2 linked regions of the Homo sapiens genome follow. The gene in region 2 interacts genetically with the main gene of each other region. Each region holds a gene or a part of one and is shown on either strand. Other genes may lie near its edges.

Region 1 (4,126 bases), on a different chromosome or scaffold from region 2:
ATTCCAGCAACTCTATAAAAGAGATGCCATTAGTGTCCCATTTTTCAGAAAAGGAAACTGAGGCTAGAGAAGTTGAGTTACTTGCCCCAATGACACAGCTAAGGCCAGGTGAAAAGAGAATTCCAACCTGGGCTGACCGGTTCCAGATCCCTTGTCCCTCACCACTACATGCAACAGGAGGTGGAGGAGAAAGAAGAGGCAGAATTTGGTGGCACCTGTCGTGTAAGCGGAGGTGGGCGGGGCGGGGGCACAAACCAAGTTCATAAGCCTACAGGATGGAGGGTGCTAAGCTTCAAAGGACAAAGAGGGCTGGTCGCCATGGCTCACACCTGTAATCCCAGCACTTTAGGAGGCTGAGGCAAGAGGACTGTTTGAGGCCAAGAATTTGTGACCAGCCTGCACAGCATAGCAAGACACTATCTCTACAAAAAATTTTAAAAATTAGCTGGGCGTGGTGGCCTGTGCTTGTAGTCCCAGCCACTCAGGAGGCTGAGGTGGGAGGATCGCTTGAGGCCAGGAGTTTCAGGCTGCAGTGAGCTGTGATCTCACCACTCCACTCCAGCCTGGGAGACAGGGTGAGACCCTGTCACTAAAACATTAAATAAACAAACAAATAAATAAAAATAAAATGAAGGGGACTGTGGGGACAAGAGTAACTTTATTGAAAATACTAATCCTCCATGTTACTTCTGACTGGCCCTGAGTCTGGGAAGGCCGCCAAAGTGTCTAGGTGATGTATTACTCTTTATGGTAGAACACCTATTCATTATAAACTTCCCCCAATACAACCCCTGTTGTTGCAGAAATCTTAGGCTGTGACAACCATAGCTGCCTACACATTCCTTGTATCTTGGGGTAAAAGCACACGTGCTCTGGAAGGAATGTGTAGGTGGCTATGGGTGCACAATTTCAGGGGGTTCGTGAACTCCAGTTAAGACTTGCCCTAATTATACCATGTAAATAATTCAATAATGGGCAATTCTGTAGTAGAAATTTTATTCCCACCCATAAAATATATCACTAAATAGCTGAAAAATTTACATATTATTTTAAAACATAGACTTAAAAAATCATATTAGCTTCTCCTTAGCAAAATGCTTTTGTTTTATGTATTTACAAGAATATACTGTACTTCAGGTACACAATTCACTCAAGCCAGCCTGAGAAGGCCTTGGATGCAGATCAATGCTCCAATAAAGTTCATTATCAGCTCCTCCTGCCTTGTGACAGGATGATTTGATTTTACAAAAGTCCCTTTGAAAACAAGAGTAAACGCAGACAGCTTCTAGAGAAAAGTCTGGTGAAGCAGCAGTTGATAATAGATTTTCTTTTAGTGATGAAATTAATCTTGTTTTGGTAATCTACAGCCTGTTAGGGATAGGTGGAGGGATGAAGTCCTTAAAACTAAATTGTTCCTCTACGAATCTTCGACCTGAGCCTGCGGAGAGAGTAGCCCCAAATCCATCTCTCTGCTGAAAGGTCGCCTGTTTTGGTAGGTGTGAGGACATTCCGAAACACGGCCATCCACATTCTGATACATCTGAATGTGGGAAAGAGACAGAACACTGATTACCATCTGATGTAGATGCACATGTTATGCGCCCATATTACAAATTATTTAAATAAAAACAGTTGTTCTATATAGACAATTACTTTTTTGTTTGTTTGTTGTTTGTTTGTTTATTTTTTGAGACAGAGTCTCGCTCTGTTGCCCAGACTGGAGTGCAGTGGTACAACCATAGTTCACCGTGGCCTTGATGTTCTGGGTTTGAGCAATCCTCCCACCTTAACCTCCTGAGTAGCTGGGACCACAAGCAGGCTCCACCACACCCTGCTAATTTTTTTATTTTTTGTAAAGACAAAGTCTCACTATGTTGTCCAGGGTGGTCTCAAACTCCTGGGCTCAAGTGATCCCACACCACCCCGGCCTCCCAAAGTGCTGCGATTACAGGTGTGAGCCACTACGCCCGGCCTAGACATCACTTTTAAAATGTTTAAACTGATATATAATAGATGTACATATTTTCAGGAAACGTGTAGACAAGTACTTTTATTATGCATAGGTCTCAGAGGATATTCTATATAACTAAAAAAGCAATTTTGGTCCTTTTATTAATGGAGAAATCAAATCATAGTCAAATATTTTATTTCATTATTGAGTCTACTCTCAGATATAAAATGTCACCCTAGAAATCCTAAAACCATGCAGAAAAATCATAAAAGAGAAAGGCCACAAAAGGAAATCTGTTCATTATGGAGTTAATACAAGGGACTGATTCTTGAGTTTTCCCTTGGAGTTTCACGACTTTTAAATATTTTTTTCTGAAATGAAGAGATTTACTTTCCTTTCCCAAATATGAAGTTAACATGCATTCATATAGATAATTTGAGAAATACAGAAAGAGACGTAGAAGGCCGGGCGCAGTGGCTCATGCCTGTAATCCCAGCACTTTGGGATGCCGAGGCGGGCGGATCACCTGGGGTTGGGAGTTCAGGACCAGCCTAGCCAACGTGGAGAAACCCTGTCTCTACTAAAAATACAAAACTAGCCGGGCATGGCGGCGCGCGCCTGCAGTCCCAGCTACTTGGGAGGCTAAGGCAGGAGAATTGCTTGAACCTGGGAGGTGGAGGCTGCAGTGAGCCTAGATTGTGCCACTGCACTCCAGCCTGGGTGACAGAGCAAGACTCCATCTCAAAAAAAAGAAAAAAGGCTACAAGTCATGACAAGTACCCGCCATTATAGACAGCTTGCTATGCACACACAATTTTGTGTCTGTGGGCTCAGGCTATATATTCTATTTTGGAACCTTATTTTGAATTATCAATATATTGTTATTATACTGCTCATATGTTGCCTGTGTCACATATTTACATTATTCACTAAGGATGGCCACATATTTTTTTTTCACGGCAGCCTAGAGTTCCATAGTACTGATGCATCATAATTAACCTTTTGACCAACTGGTTATACGAAACAAACTGAAAAGTGCACACTCAATCTAGTCTGACGTTGGGATAAGCAGAAGTGGAATTGCTGGATCAAAAAGGATGCACACTTGAACTGTGATACACAAGGCCAGGCTGCCCTGCAGAAAGGTTGTATTTATTTCTACTCCTATCAACGGTGCCTGGAAACTATATTTTCCAGAGCCTTCTGAACAATGGGTATGTCAGCCTCCCACATCTCTTCTCTTTTGCTGAGCAAGAAGTTCTATCTCCTTAACTATATATGTTTCACTATCTGCAAAGTTGGGCCTTTTTCCTATACTTTATGTCCATTTGTTTTCATTTTGAATAGCCTGCCTATTTCCTTTGCCTTTTATGTATATAAAAGGCTATACAGGCTGGGTGTACTGGCTCAACTCTGTAATCCTAGCACTTTGGGAGGCCGGGGCGGGAGGATTGCTTGAGGCCAAGAGTTCAAGACCAAACTAACCAACATAGCAAGATCCTGTCTCTAAAAGAAATAAGTTTTTAAAAGGTGATACATTTTTATTATTATTTGTTTATAAGAACTTTATGATTTAGGAATCATGCATTCTATTTAAATTTTATAGATTTGTTCCGTTCCCACAGCCCTTGTTACTGTCTACTTCTTTTTCTTTGTTTTTGACAGTTTTAATGTGAACTGTCCAGACTGCCTCCTACACTTCACTTTTCTTTCTAGAAAATTGTGTGTGTGTGTGTGTGTGTGTGTGTGTGTGTGTATCCTTTGACCCAAAATATATCCATTGTGAACCAGGTGTTGCACAATGACAGCTTTGCTTGTACCCTGAAGGATGAACAGTAACTACTCATGCGTGCCTTTTGTGAAGTAGACATAGCAGTTAGTTAGCATTTGTTGAACCTGTTGAATCCAAATGTACATCTCTACCACTGAATTTCTAACCACCTCATGAAGTTTGTGTAGCACAAATACCAATAACACTTCCAATCTTCCACCTGAATTAACTAACATGTGCTCTTCATCCAGTCTCACTGTCTAGAAGTTTCTAGAACCATCTCTGACAATCTCTCTCCACTCCCATAGCTAGTTACTGGGTATAGTTGTAATACATCACTCTTTTCCATTTCTTTAAGTGACCTTTCTTTCCTTTTTTTTTTTTTTTTTTGTTGTTGCTGTTGC
Region 2 (3,823 bases):
GGACCCACGTATGTTATAACATCGAGCAAAGCTGCTGCACTGATACTGACCAAGTGAGCATTCGTCTATGTCTGCATCAGAAAGTAGGAAAAGAAGAGACTTATTTAGGAGATAAATATGATGACATAAAAAATATATACAGTTTCAAAAATGATTTTTTTTGGCAATGTGATGATCTACATAATATTGGCAGATAAACAGAAGAAATAAACTACATGTAGACTGAGAACTACCAGTGGTTAAACTGGATGTCTGTTGGTTTAACTTAACGCCAGTACTCTCCCCTGCCCCTGACATTCCAGCCATCACCACAATTACGAGACCTTTCAGTGCTCTAGGAAGAAACAACACAAAGCAATGGTTGGGTTTCATTACCATGACATTGATATTTGCCTCCAATATACATGAGATCGAAGCCTTTATGACACTTGCAGATGTAGCTCCCAAAAGTGTTGACACATTGCCTAAATCTAGGGCAGGAGGCTCTTCCTGTAGCACATTCATCAACATCTAGAAACATAAGTCAATAGCATTTTAGGAAGAGCAAGGGTATGTTAAGACAGAGTGGGTTTCAAAATAAATAACTGACTACAAATGGTTGCCTAGCATATAGTGGCTCATCATAAACGGTATCTAGCTGGTTGTCCCTACAGGCAACATAAATTCCACATATCCAAATTTCAACCCAGCCTTCTAAGCCAAGTTATTATTTTCTTGCACTCTATATATTAGCACATACTGCACCTGTATCTACCAAGTTGCTTAAACTAGAAACATGAGTCATTCTTGAATTAGAAACAACCCTCTTTCCTTTAACTCCCATATCATCAAGTCCAGTTAATTCTACCTCTAAAAAAAAGTATTTGAATCTGTCTACTTTTCTCTTAATCCACCACCACTACCCTATTTGAAGCCACCATCTCTTGGGTTAGACTGTTACAAAAGCCTCAAAACAGTTCCTTTTGCTGTTACTTACCCCCTCCAAAGCATATCCAACCCAACTGTCAAAATGATTCCATTAAAACATACAATCAAATCATTACTGTGCTCAAAATCTTTTAACTATTTCTACTTGCACTTTGAATTAAATCCACATTCCTCCCCTGTGTCCTTGAAGGCCCTGCAACAAATCACCCTCACCTACTTCACCCATTATATCTCCAGCCACCACCCCTCATACTCACACCCTGTACTTGAGCTACATGGACCTTCTTCCTTGAAAAACCTCACACAGGCCAACCTCTCTCTCACCGCAGTGCCCTGCAATGTCTTCAGCTGCTTGGCTGTTTCTTCACATGGCTAATGATACAGGTCTTACCTTAAGGCTAATAGACACATTCTGTTTTTCTCTCAGTACCTCATGTTAACACTTGGCATTGTCTGTAATTTTATGGGGTATTTGTTTCTTTTCTGTCTCCCCCATTAGCATGTCAGCTTTGTGGGGATCAAAATCTTGTGTGCTTAGGCCACTGCTATATATCCTAGCACTCAGCACAGTGTCTGGAGTATAGAAATTACTCAGTAAATAACTCTAATCACCAAACACTTCCATTCATTCAAGGCTTATTACATGCTAGGTATTGTGCTAAGCTCTTTGCATCCATGATCTCATTCAATCTTCCTACCAGTTCTATGTGGTATTATTTCCATTTTAAAGATAAGAAGACCCAAGCTCAAAGCAACAAAGTCTCTTGCCTAAGGTTACATATCTAGTACATGGAAGAGCCAGGTTTAAAACCAAAGTCCAGACTCTCAATCCTACACTGCCTTCCTAATTTACCAGAAAAAAATCTGAGGCCTGAAGAACAACACATACAATCTAGCTATTCAGCTTCATCACTCATTGCTCACCCTTGCCGCTTACATTCTAGGAATACTGAGCTCTTCTCGTTTCCCTAAACATTGTGCTCCTCTGAACTGCAGTGTCTTTGCACATAGGGTTCCCTCTGCCTGAGGCCTCCTCCTATTTCTCATTTTTTAAAAAACAACGCTCCCATTATCCATTCACAGAGATGTCCTCTTCTGAGACATCTGATATCTTCTGAACGATAGCTAATTATCTGATGTAAGTAATTGCCTTTTTTTTCCTTATTCCCATCACCTTTCACTTTCTCCCTTTATCCTACAGAGGCTGCTGACAGAGATGCTTGATTTTACAACTCACCTACACAGGTCCTCCCATCAGGAGCCAGCTGCAGGCCAGGGGATGGGCACTGGCACCGTATTTGTCCTTTAACAACATCACAGCCATACTGACAGTTTGCCATGGAGCAGGTCAGGGCACCTGGAAAGAGAGTGACTGGCTGACTCAGACAGGTAGAAAACAAAATCTGTAATGGAAATAGCTATGTTTTTTCACTTGTCCTGAAATCAGTGACACTGAACAACAATGAAGACAAAGAGGCCTTAACTATCAAACATCTAAAGAAAATAAAAGGGGGAAGGAAAGAAAGCATTAAAAGACAAATATAAAACTATCATATATAGATTATCTGGAAATTTTTCCAGTGGCCAAGGAAAGTGAAGAATTGAGGTATTTTTCCAGATTACTCAAGCTAAACGCTATTCTTAACTAATCATCCAAGTAACTGTCTCAAATGCCCATGAAATTTCTCTAGGGGAACAGCAGATTTCCCATTGAGTTGCACAATGTTAAACATGTATTCACCTAATTCCAAAAAGTTCCATGCTATACTTATGCAATGTTAAATAAAATTAGCTAACTTTATTTTATGCAACTCAGTTAAATGATAATTCAGTAAAAATAAAAATCAAGTCATTAATTGTCAGATATCATATGAATACCACAATTCAGGAGTCAGCCTATAGAGAATTTTAGGGCATAGTCCATTTTTTACATCCAAATGATGGTGAAAACATGCATTTCTTCCTTATAAACATGAATCCTACTTTTCTGGTATCATATTCATTTATTTTTTATTTGAAATTGTTTTTTAGAAGTCTTAGACTATTATTAGAGTCTAAAATTCTATAAAAGCCTAAAGGCTTTTATAATGAAATATAAAAATGAAGAAAATATTTATGAATGATTTAAAATTACAAAACAGACCTGATGGATTCTGTCTGAGCAGTCCCTAAATAGTCAGTAGTGTTCTTTTTTTTTTTTTTTTAGCCTGGAATCATTCTTCTATGCCCAGATAGAAGACATGGGTAAACATGTTTAAAAAAAAAATTAGAAAACATACTTAGTTTTGTAATTCTTATTCTAAACACCATTTCCTAATCAATTTAATATTGGCACCCGTGATAGAAGAGTATTATACATCGAAAATGGTGCCTCTTATTTTGATTTTCAATTCCTCAGGCAAAAGTATAAACACACGCACACATCTTGTTTAGGAGAACCCCGGAGGCCATTTTCACAAAAGCAAGCTCTCAGAGCACAACAGAAACAAGCCCAAAGCACTTATAAAACAGTTAAGATTCTTGACATACTTGAGCAGGAACCATCCGGCATGAGCATATATCCGTTGAGACAGTAGCACTTGTAGCTGCCGTAAGTGTTCATGCACCTGTGCTTACAGGGCCGGGGCTTCAGGCCACACTCATTTAGATCTGAAAACAATGTGGGTTGAAGCAGAAAAATTACAAAACCTCAGCACTAATGTAAGCCATCTAAAATTCTTTTCTATATTAAAAAATGAAAGAGAAAAATAGGTCAAGCTACAGTAACTGTCATTTACATAAGAGATAGATCCTGTTCATGCAATATTAATTTGAAGGTACGTTACACTAGGGGCAACCAGGAGTCGCCATGACCTTTATGGATCTCTGTTTATAAAGGCCAGTTAGGAAAATTCTC

The links.
Region 1: changes in NPNT (region 2) and FLT3 together harm fitness less than expected from each alone (positive genetic interaction), as found in Homo sapiens cells (one study listed by BioGRID).

What each region holds. Positions count from the first base shown.
Region 1 is NC_000013.11:28,002,635-28,006,760, forward strand, and holds the end of FLT3 (receptor-type tyrosine-protein kinase FLT3 precursor), read right to left. Parts: intron 1,541-4,126; coding exon 1,418-1,540; 3' UTR 640-1,417; downstream 1-639. UniProt on the Homo sapiens protein: Tyrosine-protein kinase that acts as a cell-surface receptor for the cytokine FLT3LG and regulates differentiation, proliferation and survival of hematopoietic progenitor cells and of dendritic cells.
Region 2 is NC_000004.12:105,936,762-105,940,584, reverse strand, and holds part of NPNT (nephronectin isoform B precursor), read right to left. Parts: intron 3,577-3,823; coding exon 3,457-3,576; intron 2,285-3,456; coding exon 2,165-2,284; intron 511-2,164; coding exon 376-510; intron 72-375; coding exon 1-71. UniProt on the Homo sapiens protein: Functional ligand of integrin alpha-8/beta-1 in kidney development. Regulates the expression of GDNF with integrin alpha-8/beta-1 which is essential for kidney development.